Homo sapiens: one gene and its partner. The protein of the gene in region 1 interacts with the protein of each later gene in a pairwise test. Each region holds a gene or a part of one and is shown on either strand. Other genes may lie near its edges.

Region 1 (7,283 bases):
TTTAGTATATTCACGATGTTGTGCAACCATCACCAGTATCTAATTCCAGAACACTTTCATCAGTGCTAAAGGAAACACCATACCCATTAAGCAGTTACTTCCCTCTTCTCCATTTCCGCAGCCCCTAGCAACCACCAATCTCTTTTCTGTCTGTATAGATTTGCCTATTGTGGGCCGGGCGCGTGGCTTACCCCTGTAATTCCAGCACGTTGGGAGGCTGAGGCGGGCAGATCACAAGGTCAGGAGATCGATACCATCCTGGCTAACACGGGGAAACCCCGTCTACTAAAAATACAAAAAATTAGCCGGGCGTGGTGGCACGCACCTATAGTCCCAGCTACTCTGGAGGCTGAGGCAGGAGAATTGCTTGAACCTGGGAGGCAGAGGTTGCAGTGAGCCGAGATTGCCCCACTGTACTCCAGCCTGGGCAACAGAGCGGGACTGCGTCTCCCACAAAAAAACAAAACAAAAACAAAAATTTGCCTATTGTGGACATTTCATATAAATAGAATCCTATAATATGTGACATTTTGTCCCTGGTTTCTTTCACTTAGCATAATGTTTTCAGGATTCATCCATATAACAGTACTTTACTCCTTTTTATGGCTGAATAATATTCCATTGTATGGATACAACACATTTTGTTTTTTCCATTCATCAGTTGATGCACATTTGGGTTGCTTACACCTTTTGACTGTTATGAATAGGGCTCCTATAAGCAAAAACATTATGTACATGTTTTTGCTTGAAAACCTGTTTTCAGTGCTCTTGGGTATATACCCAGGAGTGGAATTGCTGGGCCATGTGGTAATTGAGATGAAACATTTAAAGTGAAATCTTACTAAACCAATATGTTGTCCTTTTGGGGAGGTGGGAGTCATATTGTTATTTCTCTTTTGTTTTGATAACATAACACCTGAACTCCCACACCTCCCTAGAAAATGTGGTATGGAAATTTATGCCAGAAGACTATTAGATGGCATCACCAACTCATACCCAACATGAGAACTAAACTTTTTTTATACAAATTGCCAACTGATATAAAGGCAGTTGAAGGTCCCCAACTCTAACAGGTGTACTACTATGTACCTTCAGAAAATGAAGGTTACAGTCAAGTAACCAAAGTGTTTCTGTATAGCTTTGGAGCCAGAAACCTTAGTCAGATTACAGGAGGTTGCCCTTGGGCCACTCACTAAATTTCTCTGTTGTAGTTTCTCCATCTGTAAAATGGGGATAATAATCTCTGCTGCTCAAGATTGACATAAAGATAGGGCATAGCCTGGCACATAGTTGACAATAAATATTAGTCTCTTTTCCCCATATATTCTTATATTCTTCAAATTAATTGCTCTCCAAGATATCACTATTTTTCTTCTCATTTTCTCTTTCAGGCTAAAATTAAATTGCCAAATACAAACCCTTCTGATATTCAAATTGATATCCAGGAAACAATCCTTGACCTTCGTACTCCTCAGAAGTGAGTAAAACTTAGAACTGGAATAGTGTATTATAATATTAAAGAGTCTTCAGTCAATATTATTTTTTAAAATGTACAGTTATTTTGTATCACCCCTAAAGTCTGAAGAAAAGTGGAAAATTTTGTATTCAGATGTTTGATCTACATTAATATAAACATAAATATGTTTGGAAATACTTGGACTTTTTTCTACTTTGCATCCGTGCATTTGGAGTGGGTTAATGCTATTAAAACACAATTCTTGACACCCAGATGCAGTTTATCTATCAGAAAAAATAACTAGAAGTGAAAATGCCATTAAGTTGTAAGTCTTATATGTGGTTTTTGTACATTGATTACATAAGGGAAGCAATATCTTTATACTTTTGTCATTTTGTGGGGCTGTAAGGTTAAATTTGAGTGTTTTCATTTAAATCAACAAAAAGATCTTGCCATCAATTACTATCTAAATACCTCACTGCTTTGTGCACATCTTATCTGGATATAGAGCAGTGAGCACATACTGGTTCACTGCAATGGTCCTAACTCTGTAACTCATGAACATTTCAAACTGGATTTGGGAGGCAGGCAGTTGCTGGCACATTTTCTTCCTTCCATTATCAGTACCTATAATTCTCCTTTGTTGAGCTTAGGACTTCAAGAAAATGACAAGAAGATCCTTCATACAAAAGATTCCTATGTGTAAACAACCCAATATGCATATGTAGCTTAATCTTGGCTTCTATAGTAAATGCATTTAACCCAAAATGGTCTACAGATAAATATATATCAAATGTTTTCTTATTATTTACATCATTTCAAAAATGTATCCTCACAGAACAATCATCTCATGTTATAAAAATTATATTCACTATTTCTGCTGTTTACTTCAAGGAGTATTGTACCCTTTTGTTGCATTTTATACACGAATTTACTCTTCCACATAACCTTTACAAGGAAAATTGGTTAAATGAACAATCTTCCAAGATATTTGCAAGCTTGTTAAAAGCACACACATGTCTACACACCATGGGGTTAATTTCCGTTTCCCTAGCAGTTCTCACTGTCTGTGAGACTTTCATTTAGTGGATTCTGATGGATATCTGTAATGACGGCACAGCCATAGCAGCTACCTAAAGATTGATGGAGACAGCAGAAATACTGAATACAATTTTTATAACATGAGATGTTTGTTCTGTGAGGATACATTTTGGATTAAAAGTACTTTCCCACATAGAACATGGGCTATACACTAGGTCCTTTGGATCATAATGTACTTATATATTAAATGCGCAGTGCAGAGAGGTACCATCTCAAGAAAACCTGCTTAACTAAGATAGAAGACAGAAAATATAATTAAGGATTTTATCATGTTTCCTAAATACTTGAGAATCCTTTAGAGCCATGCTTTTCTCTGAAATTGCATTATCGGGAATGTGTCTTGTTTTCGAGTTTATTGATATTCACACCTACTTTCTTTAGTTTCTAACTTTGACATCATATAACGCTATGTTTATCCAATCTGAGAAAGATTTGAGAGGGCATTCTGTTCTTGTATCTATAAGGCAGAAACAAGCGAATTTATTTTAACTGAATTGACCAGTGGTTTCTGTCAAACAATAGTCAATTTCATTCGAATTACCAATAAAACCCAGGTATTTACCAAAATAAATAAAGCAGTTTACCAAATTCTTCACTTTTTTCAATTGGTTGTTTTGGCATGTAGATACCCAACATGGAGTAAATGGAGAGGAGGAAAGACGGAGAAAATTGGATAATTTACGGGGATCTCTTAAGTCTTCATATGAGATTTCATTATTTTTCTAAGTGAATTCTAAGAATTTCATAAATGAATACCTTGAATGTGATAATAATAACACATTCTAAAGACAAATGTAAGCTAATTTTTGGTTGAGTGCTGCTTTAGATTACTCACACATTTGCTGTGCTCCTTTAGTTTGGATTGGGAATTGACTGATTTTCAAAGACTGATAGCTAAAAAAGAAGTTTTCTAAATGAAATAGTTGAGTTGCAGCTCAGTAGCTATTTCTGCACTTTCTTTGAAAATAGTTATGTCTCCTTCAGTAAACCTTAAAAAGGTTTTTAACCCAGATATGTAAGTCAAATAATTTTGTTAATTATATAAGATAAAAATTTCATTATGCGAATATGCTGGGAACCAGGATGTCCTTTGCTTAAATCTCTTGTGAGCAACATCAACTTAAACTCTCTAATATAAGTATAAGCATGTAAGTCTCTAAACTTGAGTTCACTGTAGAGATTTTTTTTGTATTTACATTCATGTATTATTGTTTGCATTTAATTTCTAATGAAAATTAACACTGGATGAACCTTTGATCACTGCCTAGACTGTAACTTCTGAAAATGCAAATACATTGTCAATGTAAAAGTAGAGGTATTGGGTTTAAATGTTTGTTCATATCTTATAGTACTAATCTATGGTAATTATTCAAATGTTATTTTGTGGTGACCTGAATACTTGCTTCATTTATTTACTCACTCATTCATTTATTTATTCACTCAACATTTATAAAGTCTTCCACTAGACACTAAGGGAGCACCAAGATAAGATACATTAATGTCCTTCCATGAATTGTACATGGATAAGTATTTGGAGAATTTTTATTTTGTTTAAATATAAATCTCAGTACAGATAATAAGACAGTAAAACAGACGACGAAAATATTTCCCTTCTCCTAAGAGCCTAAATCAGTTGTACAGTTCTACTGTTCAACATTTTATTATGTGAAGCCATACTACTTAGAACTACACAGAAATGCAGGCGTAGATGGATCATTCCAATGGCCACTAACTGTCTCTTTTGAATTTATTTCTCTCTGGACAGAGAAGTGCACATTATCATTGGAACTCCTTCTTCAGCTGATTTATAGTTGTCTTTTAGTGCAACGAAGCTACCATACTAAGCTTTGCTTTCTTTTAAAAGTGAATATATTATCATTTATTGAATAAAGTATAAAGGAAATCTAAGTCTAGCACAACCTATATAGTAAACAGATTTAAAGGATGGACTCTACACGGTTTTTGCACTCACTTTTTTTTTCCTGAGATGCCAAATATTACAGTCTACATTAAAATGCATTGCCACTACGTTTGGCAACGTATTCAGGCGAAGTGTTTTTCCTACCCCACATGGAATGGAACAAGAGTCACAGAAAATTTATCCTTCAGGTTCCATAAATGTGTAATAAATACTTTTAATGAACCCAGTCTTCTGAACTCAGGTTTTTGCAAAGGAATAAAGAAGGAATTGATTTTCAAGGGTTTTGTTTTCAAATACATACTAGTTCTCAATTCAAGAACCCAATAAGTGCCCCTAAAAATACCATATTCCTTTACTTATTTGGATATTATACCTTCTAAAAGAGCATCCTGTCCACCTTTTATAGAGATACTCAGACCTTCTCTACTGAAAATGCGAGGTAACAAGTGTTTCATGCATTTAATTTTCTTCCAAAACCAGCATGTGCTGACCCCGTGCATAATTTAGATTCATGCCAATATGGCAGAATTATGGATGTCTCATCCCAGCAATGCATCTAAAGCATAAAACTATCCAGCAACTGAACTATAAACCACAAAATAAACCTAGCAATCTATCACAGGGAATTTTTGTCAATGTGTAAGTAGAAAGAATCAGAAGCAAGGAGAGAGAAGCACTTTCATTGATTTGGTATTGAAATCATTCCCAGCCTCAGTTTCAAAAACTACACCTGTGGTAGAGACTCTGCTTAAATCTATGTTAGCAGAAGTGTCATAGAGCCATTCCAATTTTCAAATTTGTATCCGTCGGCCACATTGCATCTATACATAAGTATGAGTGGCAACAGATCTGTCCAGCAAACTTAAAAGTTGCATAGTTCTATTTCTATGCCTGTAAACATAGCCTGAGACTATGTAAAATGAGGTCAATTCGGAGAAAAATAGGGGCGCCAAAACAACTGCTTGGATTTTTAAGTCCAGAAAAACTGGTATACTGTTTGTGTTATTTAGGCATATTTTTGATCCAATATTTACACTATCTAAATATTGGGGGGGGGTTGTTTTCTAACACTCTAGTGGCATATGTTGTTTGCAATTGTCTTATTGAAAGTGATACATCATTTTAGGAAGCTAAGGTTTTATTTTGTTGTTTTTTTTTAGGAAGCTGTTGATAACTCTTCCTGAGCTGGTGGAATGTACCAGTGCCAAAGCATTCTATATCCCAGAGACTGAAACTCTTGAAATCACTATGACTATGAAAAGAGAGTTAGATATTGCTAATTTCTTCTGAAACTGCATGAAAAAGATAAAAAGTAGTAAAATGGCATTGGTAACAATTAAAAAACTTTGAAAAAAATGATTGTTTTCTATATTCTCTTTATTATTCTGACATATTTTTGAAAGGGACAAAATTCAGTTCTAGTGATATTGTGACCATTTACAGTAATTTCTATTACTCTGTTAGGAAATATGTTTCCTTGGCCAGGTGCAATGGCTCATGCCTGTAATCCCAACACTTTGGGAGGCCGAAGCAGGCGGATCACTTGAGGTCAGGAGTTTGAGACCAGCCTGGTCAACATGGCGAAACCCTGTCTCTACTAAAAATACGAAAATTAGCCTGGCGTGGTGGCAGGTGCCTGTAATCCCAGCTACTCTGTCTCAAAAAACAAACAAAAAAAGGAAATATGTTTTCTTATGTAAATAAACTATTCTATTTTTATAGTGATAGCTGAGTAGAATCTTTACAGGTTAAAAAATTAGAATATTTCATGGTCAATTACATAATTGAAATATGATCATGAAATGGTTGGTCCACTTACTTCAGTAGTCTGAAAAACTTATGCTAATTATTTACATTTACACTGTGATACAATCAGTTGCATAGCAATTGGTCATTATTATTACCAGAGAATTTTATTTGGTTGCTTTTTCATTGATTTGAGCAAATGATTTACAGTGTTCTCTGTTTAGGCTCTCACTGTTGTTCTGGAATATACAGGTAATAAATAGTTTGATGTACCATACTATCAACATATTTACTTGAGTAAGGAACACTTTTGTGCGTACAGTATTATTTGGCTTCTTCAGTTGTGCTTTTAATGCTTGGATATAGTTAGGTTAAAAACATTTTTTATATGCACTAATAATTATTAGCATTGCCTTTTTGGGTACTGTATTTATATGTAGTCAATTGAAATCCTTGACTTTAAAATAAATTTAAAGTGTGGCACATTTACAAATCCTGTTTGCTCTCATTTCCTATCTTTCTTCTTAAATAGACATATCTCTTTTAGGAATTGTCTCAATGTCCCCTCCTTCTTCTATACTGTATTGCATATGTTTATTTTGGAATTATTTATGAATACATTATAAAGCTTGTGTGACTTGGCTTCATACATTATTTTAGAACTGTGGAGTTACCAAGGAGTAAATTTTGAAAAGATGAACAATGAAAAGATGTTCATCACTTCTATATGAACTATTAAGGGAATAAATAGCAGATATTTTCTAGAGTTAATTATATATATACAACTATGAAGCATCTAGTTTGTGACTAGATGAAATGATGAAATAGAATGAAAAGACTGAGATTTTGGAAAAAAAAATGGTTGTGTTAGAACACTAAGCTCTTACAGAGAATTTGACATTTAAGCTACCAACACGACTTTCTTCTATGGGGGCAAAAGTTGAGGGTGGGATTAGCTGAAAGGAAGCTAGTGTCTGTGAGTTTAGGTCCATGATGTTACAGGACCTAAAGAGCATCATACTTTGCTTTTTTAGCATCTTTTTAAAAGGCTATATTTTA
Region 2 (7,283 bases), on another chromosome or scaffold:
AGGAGGTCATTATCAGCAATTCTTCAGTCTCATCCCTAGCAAATTGCTTTCCAGAAACTCTAAATCAATTATTTGGCACCTTTATACATATAAGGAGGAAACAGAACCTTTTCAAAGAGAAATGTCACTTGCTGACCCTGACCGAGTCTTCTCTAGAATGTTTGATTTATAATTTCAGTTAGGAAAGAAAACCAGCCAGATTTGAGCCCCATGAGGCCTCATGTTTTTATTCCTCTGAGATAATCTGGTTGGCAGGGAATGTTTTTAGCACTTGTTGGCTCTTTCCCTCAGTAAGTCAAGTTTGATTGAGAAACCATTGTTTCAGTTTGCAGACCCCCCCCTTTTTTTAACTGCAGTCAAATTCACTTATAGAAACTAACCATTTTAAGTCGGGCACAGTGGCTCATGCTTGTAATCCCAGCACTTTGGGAGGCTGAGGCAGGTAGATCACTTGAGGCCAGGAGTTGGAGACCAGCCTAGCCAACATGGTGAAATCCTATCTCTACTAAAGATACAAAAATTAGCCAGGTGTGGTGATGTACACCTGTAGTCCCAGCTACTCAGGAGGGTGAGGCTGGAGAATCGCTTGAACCCAGGAGGCGGAGATTGCAGTAAGCCAAGATCGTGCCACTGCCCTGCAGCCTGGGCGACAGAGCAAGGCTCTGTCTCAAATAAATAAATAAATAAGAAAGAAATTAACCATTTTAAAATGAAAAATTCAGCACATTTAGTGCATTCACAGTGTTATGCAAGCATCACCTCTATCTAGTTCAAAACATTTCCATCACCCCAAAGGGAAGCCTCGTATGTTACACAACCACTCCCCATTCCCCACTTCTCTCACTCCCTGGCAACCCGTAAGTGCTTTGTCTCTATGGACTTGACTGTTCTGGAAATTTCACATCAATGTAATGGTATCCTGTGTGGCCTTTGTGTCTGGCTTCTTTCACTCAGCATCATGTTTTTGGGGTTCATCCATGTTGTAGCCTGTATCAGTGCTTTATTCCTTTATTTTATTTTTTGAGATGAAATCTCACTCTGTCACCCAGGCTGGAGTGCACTGGCGTGATCTCGGCTCACTGCAACCTCCACCTCCCAGGTTCCAGTGATTCTCCTGGCTCAGCCCCCTGAGTAGCTGGGATTACAGGTGCCCGCCACCACACCCGGCTCCTTTTGTGTGTGCGTGTGTCTGTGTGTGTTTGTGTGTGTGTGTGTGTGTGTGTGTGTGTGTTTTTAGTACAAAGTTTCACCATGTTGGCCAGGCTAATCTGGAATTCTTGACCTCAGGTGATCCTCCTGCCTCAGCCTCCCAAAGTGCTGGAATTACAGGTGTGAGCCACCATGCCTGGACCCTTCATTCCTTTTTATTCATGGCTGAATCACATTCCATCATGTGACTAGACTAGGACAGACATTTGGGCTGTTTCCACCATTTTTTTTTTTTTTTTGAGACAGAGTCTCGTGTCATCCAGGCTGGAGTGCAGTGGCGCGATGTCGGCTCGCTGCAACCTCCGACTCCCGGGTTCAAGCAATTCTCCTGCCTCAGCCTCCCAAGTAGCTGGGACTACAGGTGCCCGCCATCACACCCGGCTAATTTTTGTATTTTTAGTAGAGACGGGGGTTTCACTGTGTTGACCAGGCTGGTCTTGAACTCCTGACCTCGTGATCCGCCCGCCTCAGCCTCCCAAAGTGCTGGGATTACAGGCTTGAGCCACCGCGCCCGACCTGTTTCCACCTTTTGGCTCTTGTGAAAAGTGTTGCTCTGAATATTTATGTACAAGGACTTGTTTGAGTCACTGTTTTCCATTGGGTTATAAACTTTGATGGGAGAGAGCGGGAGAGCACGCGGTCAGTGTTTGAGTTGTCCTCTTCAGTCAGCGTCTGCCTTTCTTGGCTCTCCGTGAGTCCTCTGAGCGTGGCTTGCCCGTGCTGTCTCCCCTCTGCAGGAGGAAAACTCCCTCTTCGTCATGACCAACGTGATCCTCACCATGAACCAGACACAGGGCCTGTGCCCCGAGGTAGGAGGCCCCCGGGAAGAGCCCCAGGCCCCACACCCCTCTCCACGCCTGTCCACCTGTGTGTGGGGCCGGGCCACGTGGACTTTCTTTTCGCTCCTTCTTTTTCCAGATTCCAGATGCGACCACTGTGTGTAAATCAGATGCCAGCTGTACTGCCGGCTCTGCCGGCACCCACAGCAACGGTACGAGCTTGTGGCCTCCTGGGGAGGGCGGCCCCTGAGCAGATCGCCCCCACTGTGGAGCGTCTCTGATAGAGAAATCTTCCCAATTCCTTCACATGACCCTGGGTGAGCCAGGTGCCGAGGCTGGGGTCCTGGAGCCCCTCTACATTCACTGCTGTCATTGGAGCCCCACAAGCCATCCCAGCTCTTGCCCTACTGTTTTTTTTTTTGTTGTTGTTGTTGTTTTTTCTTGTTTTTTTTTTTGTTTTGTTTTTTTGTTTTTTTGAGCCAGAGTCTCGCTCTGTCACCCAAACTGGAGTGCAATGGCATGATCTCGGCTCACTGCAACCTCCACCTCCCAGTTTCAAACAATTCTCCTGCCTCAGCCTCCCGAGTAGCTGGGATTACAGGCATGCACCACCACGCCCAGCTAATTTTTGTACTTTTGGTAGAGATGGGTTTTACCATGTTGGCCAGGCTGGTCTCGAACTCCTGACCTCAGGTGATCCACCCGCCTCAGCCTCCCAAAGTGCTAGGATTACAGGCATGACCCACTGTGCCTGGCCTCTTGTCCCATTCTTTAGCTTGGCATCACCCTGGCTGAGATGTGGCTGGCACACAGGTAACTGTCTTCCTCCGATTCTAACTCCTGGACAGTGACACTGTCTAAATCCCAGATTTGCACAGCTCAAGACTGGCTGCATGGGAGGCTGGATGGGGCTCTCACTCCCTACTCCAAAAAGGTAGAAAATAGGAGACCCCTGTGGACATGGGACCCCCCTGCCACCCTTGTGCTTGTAGGAGTCTCAACAGGCAGGTGCGTAGCTTTCAACGGGTCTGTCAAGACGTGTGAGGTGGCGGCCTGGTGCCCGGTGGAGGATGACACACACGTGCCACAGTGAGTCCAGCCCTAGGGAAGGAAGTGCCTTTTTGTTTTGTTTTGTTTTAGACACAGTTTCACTCTGTATCCCAGGTTGGAGTGCAGTGGTGCGATCTTGGCTCACCACAACCTCCACCTCCCGTGTTCAAGTGATTTTCTGTGCCTCAGCCTCCCGAGTAGCTGAGATTATAGGCACCCACCACCACGCCCAACTAATTTTTTGTATTTTTAGTAGAGACGGGGTTTTGCCATGTTGGCCACGCTGGTCTCCAACTCCTGACCTCAAGTGATCCACCTGCCTTGGCCTCCCAAAGTGCTAGGATTACAGGCGGGAGCCACCACACCCAGCCAGAAGCCACCACACCCAGCCGGAAGCACCTTCAACTCTGCGTGTCAGCCTTGAACAGAGGTGGTCAAGGAGTTACACCTGTGTGTTGTGGCTTTTTGTGTGTTTCTGGTGTCTGTATGAAGTCAGGCTGCCCTAGGATGGCTGCTCTCAACCACAAGGCAGCGACCATCAGTGGCAAGATGGGCCACAAGTAGTCTGTCACTCACGAGAAGGGTGCAGGTGACTGACTTCCTTGTATGTTAGGACTCTGTCAGTTGCAAATAACTGACAGGAAACAGTTCTCAGTGCCTTAAGCACATGTGCACAAACACATACACACATACACATGCGTGCACAGCGGGGGGGCAGTGTATTGTCCGGCTGACCAAAAAGATCCAGCGTGGCCAGGAGAATCTCGTGCCAGGCTGAGGCAGAAGAATCTCTTGAACCTGGGAGGAGGAGGTTGCTGAGCTGAGATGGTGCCACTGCACTCCCTCCTGGGCGACAGAGGCCACTGCACTCCTGCCTGGGCGACAGAGTGAGAGACAAAGGACAACACCCTAGTCTCCCTTCCTGGCTCTGCATCCCGCCGTGCCAGCTTCACTCGCAGGACCCACAGCATAGCCCGGGAGGCAGCGCTGCACTTACAGCCCCCCAAGTCTGAGTCTCCCTTTCCAGCTGTCCCTGGAGATTCTAGACCTGTCCATCATCGTATCAATGGCCATATCTCTCAACCCATCTCTGTGGCTGGGGAATGGGTTTTGCTTATCAGCTTGGGCCTGGGTCACATGCCCACCTCTGCAGCTGGGGCTAGAGTCAGACCCACCCAAGTGACATAGGCAAGCATTGGGGAGATATGGCTTCCAAAGGACATTTGGGGTTCTGTTACCAGAAAAGCTGGGAGCAGATGCTGGGAAGAAAACAACGGATGTTTGCTACAGTGTATTTTAAACTAAACTAGACAGGTTCATCCTGGCGCGGTGGCTCATGCTGTAATCCTAACACTTTGGGAGGCTGAGGCAGTCGGATCATCTGAGGCCAGGAGTTCAAGACCAGCCTGGCCAACATGGAGAAACCCCGTCTCCACTAAAAATACAAAAATTAGGGTTAGGGTGGCGCTTGTCTGTAATCCCAGCTACTTGGGAGGCTGAGGTAGGAGAATTGCTTGAACCCGGGAAGTGGAGGTTGCAGTGAGCTGAGATCGCTCTTCTGCACTCTAGCTTGGGCGACAGAGAGAGACTCTGTCTCAAAAAATAAAAATTTAAAAAAATAAATAAATAAAAATTTAAAAATCAACTAAACTAGCCAGGTTCAAGGTTGCTCTAGAATAACATTCTTCGTGGTTGTAATTGGCTGTGCTTCATGGGGTGGAGTCCGGGCAGCGCTCTGAGAAGTGCGTGCAGCCTAGGGCCTTTCTCACCGAGAGCTCAGACCGAGGTCTCCATGAGCCCCGGGGAGCAGGAAGCCACTGAACCTCATCCTGGGTGTGTTGAGACAGAAGGAAAGGCTGAGAACTGCAGATTTAGAGATTGCTAAGGCAAAGGAAGGAGATAGAAAAAGAAAAGGAATCCTAGCATCTTAGAGCTGGAGAGGATCTCACAGAGCTGTGCTCTCCAACACAGGAGACTCTGGCCACGCGTGGCTATTGAAAATTGAAATATGGCTGGGTCCGAAAGGAGATGGGCTGTCCATAGGAAGTGCACTTATCATCAAATTGGATTTTTTTTTTTTTTTTTTGAGACGAAGTCTCGCTCTGTCGCCCAGGCTGGAGTACAGTGGCGTGATCTTGGCTCACCACAACCTCTGCCTCCCGGGTTCAAGTGATTCTCCTGCCTCAGCCTCCTGAGTAGCTGGGATTATAGGCACCCCCCACCACACCTTGCTAATTTTTGTATTTTTAGTAGAGATGCAGGTTTCACCATGTTGGCCAGGCTGGTCTCGAACTCCTGACCTCAGGTTATCCACCTGCCTCAGCCTCCCAAAGTGCTGGGATTATAGGTGTGAGCCACTGCACCCAGCCCGATTCTGTTTATTATTTATTTATTTTTTATTTATTTGTATTTATTTATTTATTTGAGATGGAGTCTCGCTCTGTCGCCCAGGCTGGAGTGCAGTGGCGCCATCTCTGTTCACTGCAAGCTCCGCCTCCTGCGCTCACGCCATTCTCCTGCCTCAGCCTCCCCAGTAGCTGGGACTACAGGCGCCCACCACCACACCCAGCTAATTTTTTTGTATTTTTAGTAGAGAGGGGGTTTCACTGTGTTAGCCAGGATGGTCTCGATCTCCTGACCTCGTGATCCACCTGCCTTGGCCTCCCAAAGTGCTGGGATTGCACGCGTGAGTCACCACGCCCGGCCCTGAATATTTATTATGAAAAAAAGAATGTATAATATCTCATTGATTTTTGTATGTTGGTTACATGTTGAAGTAATATTTTGGGTTACTGTATAAAATTTTACTTGTTTCTTTTACTTTGTAGTGTGGCTATTAGGAAACTTTAAGTTGGAGTGTGGCTTGTAGTTGTGTCTCATAAGATACTTTTTTTTTGACACAGGATCTTGCTCTGTCACCCAGTGCAGTGATAACGATCATGGCTCACTGCAGCTTCGAACTCCTGGACTCAAGTGATCTTCCCGCCTCATCCTCCTGTGTAGCTGGGACCACAGGGGCGCACCACCATGCCCAGCCAACTTATTTTTTGTAGAGACAGGGTCTCACCATGTTGCCCAGGCTGGTCTTGAACTCCTGGGCTCAAGCAACCCACCTGCCTTAGCCTCCCAAAGTGCTGGGATTACAGCGTGAGCCACCACACCTGGCCTCACAATATACTTTTATTGGACATCACTGTTGCAGATCTAATGCGGTGTAAAATGATTTTTAAGTGCACACTGATATAAGAAATAACATTGGCCAGGCACAGTGGCTCATGCCTATAATCCCAGCACTTTGGGAGGCAGAGACGGGTGGATCACTTGAGGCCAGGAGTTCAAAACCAGCCTGGCCAACATGGTGAAACCCCCTCTCTACTAAAAATATAAAAATTAGCCAGGCGTGGTGGTGCGCACCTGTAATCCCACTACTCAGGAGGCTGAGGCACGAGAATTGCTTGAACCCGGGAGATAGAAGTTGCAGTGAGCCAAGATCATGCCACTGCGCTCCAGCCCGGGTGACAGAATAAGACCCTGTCTCAAAAACAGAACAAAGACTAAAACGTTTTGGAACTAGACAGAGGTGATGATTGCACAACATTATGAATGTACTAAATGCCACAGAATTGTCCAGTTTAAAATGGTTAATTTTATGTTATGTGAATTTCATCTCAATTTCTCTAAAAAGGTGAGTTGATCTTAAAGTATTACATGTGAGGTACACAGGTGTGTGTGTGGGTGTTACGGTACAGGAAATGACAAAAACTTGAACACCCCTGTTGTAAGCCATCCCTCTTGAGGGAGTGGGGACTTTGAAGACCTGAGAGAAGTCCAGGCACAGTGGCCCATGCCTGTAATCCCAGCACTTTGGGAGACCGAGGTGGGTGGATCATCTGAGGTCAGGAGTTTGAGACCAGCCTGACCAACATGGTGAAACCCCATCTCTACTAAAAATATGAAAAAATTAGCCAGGCGTGGTGGTGCACGCCTGTAACCCCAGCTACTCGGGAGGCTGAGGCAGGAGAATCACTTGAACCCAGAGGTTGCAGTGAGCCGAGATCGCGGCATTGCACTCCAGCCTGAGCAACAGGAGCAAGACTCCATCTCAAAAAAAAAAAAAACCTGAGAGAAGCCCCTTGGTCCCAGCCTTTCTCTGACAGCAGTGGTGACAGGCTCAGCTCTCCTCCGAGTGCAGCCCTGTCACTGACCTTGCTCCTGTCTCAGGGCTGGGAAGACTGTTGATGTTGT

What was found.
Region 2: the proteins of DNAAF6 (region 1) and P2RX4 interact in binary tests that used the Homo sapiens proteins (3 or more experiments, as listed by UniProt).

The regions. Positions count from the first base shown.
Region 1 is NC_000023.11:107,237,531-107,244,813, forward strand, and holds the end of DNAAF6 (dynein axonemal assembly factor 6), read left to right. Parts: intron 1-1,391; coding exon 1,392-1,477; intron 1,478-5,638; coding exon 5,639-5,768; 3' UTR 5,769-6,717; downstream 6,718-7,283. UniProt on the Homo sapiens protein: Plays a role in cytoplasmic pre-assembly of axonemal dynein.
Region 2 is NC_000012.12:121,219,967-121,227,249, forward strand, and holds part of P2RX4 (P2X purinoceptor 4), read left to right. Parts: intron 1-1,946; coding exon 1,947-2,018; intron 2,019-2,127; coding exon 2,128-2,200; intron 2,201-2,763; exon of another isoform or gene 2,764-2,801; intron 2,802-2,980; coding exon 2,981-3,077; intron 3,078-7,283. UniProt on the Homo sapiens protein: ATP-gated nonselective transmembrane cation channel permeable to potassium, sodium and calcium. CTP, but not GTP or UTP, functions as a weak affinity agonist for P2RX4.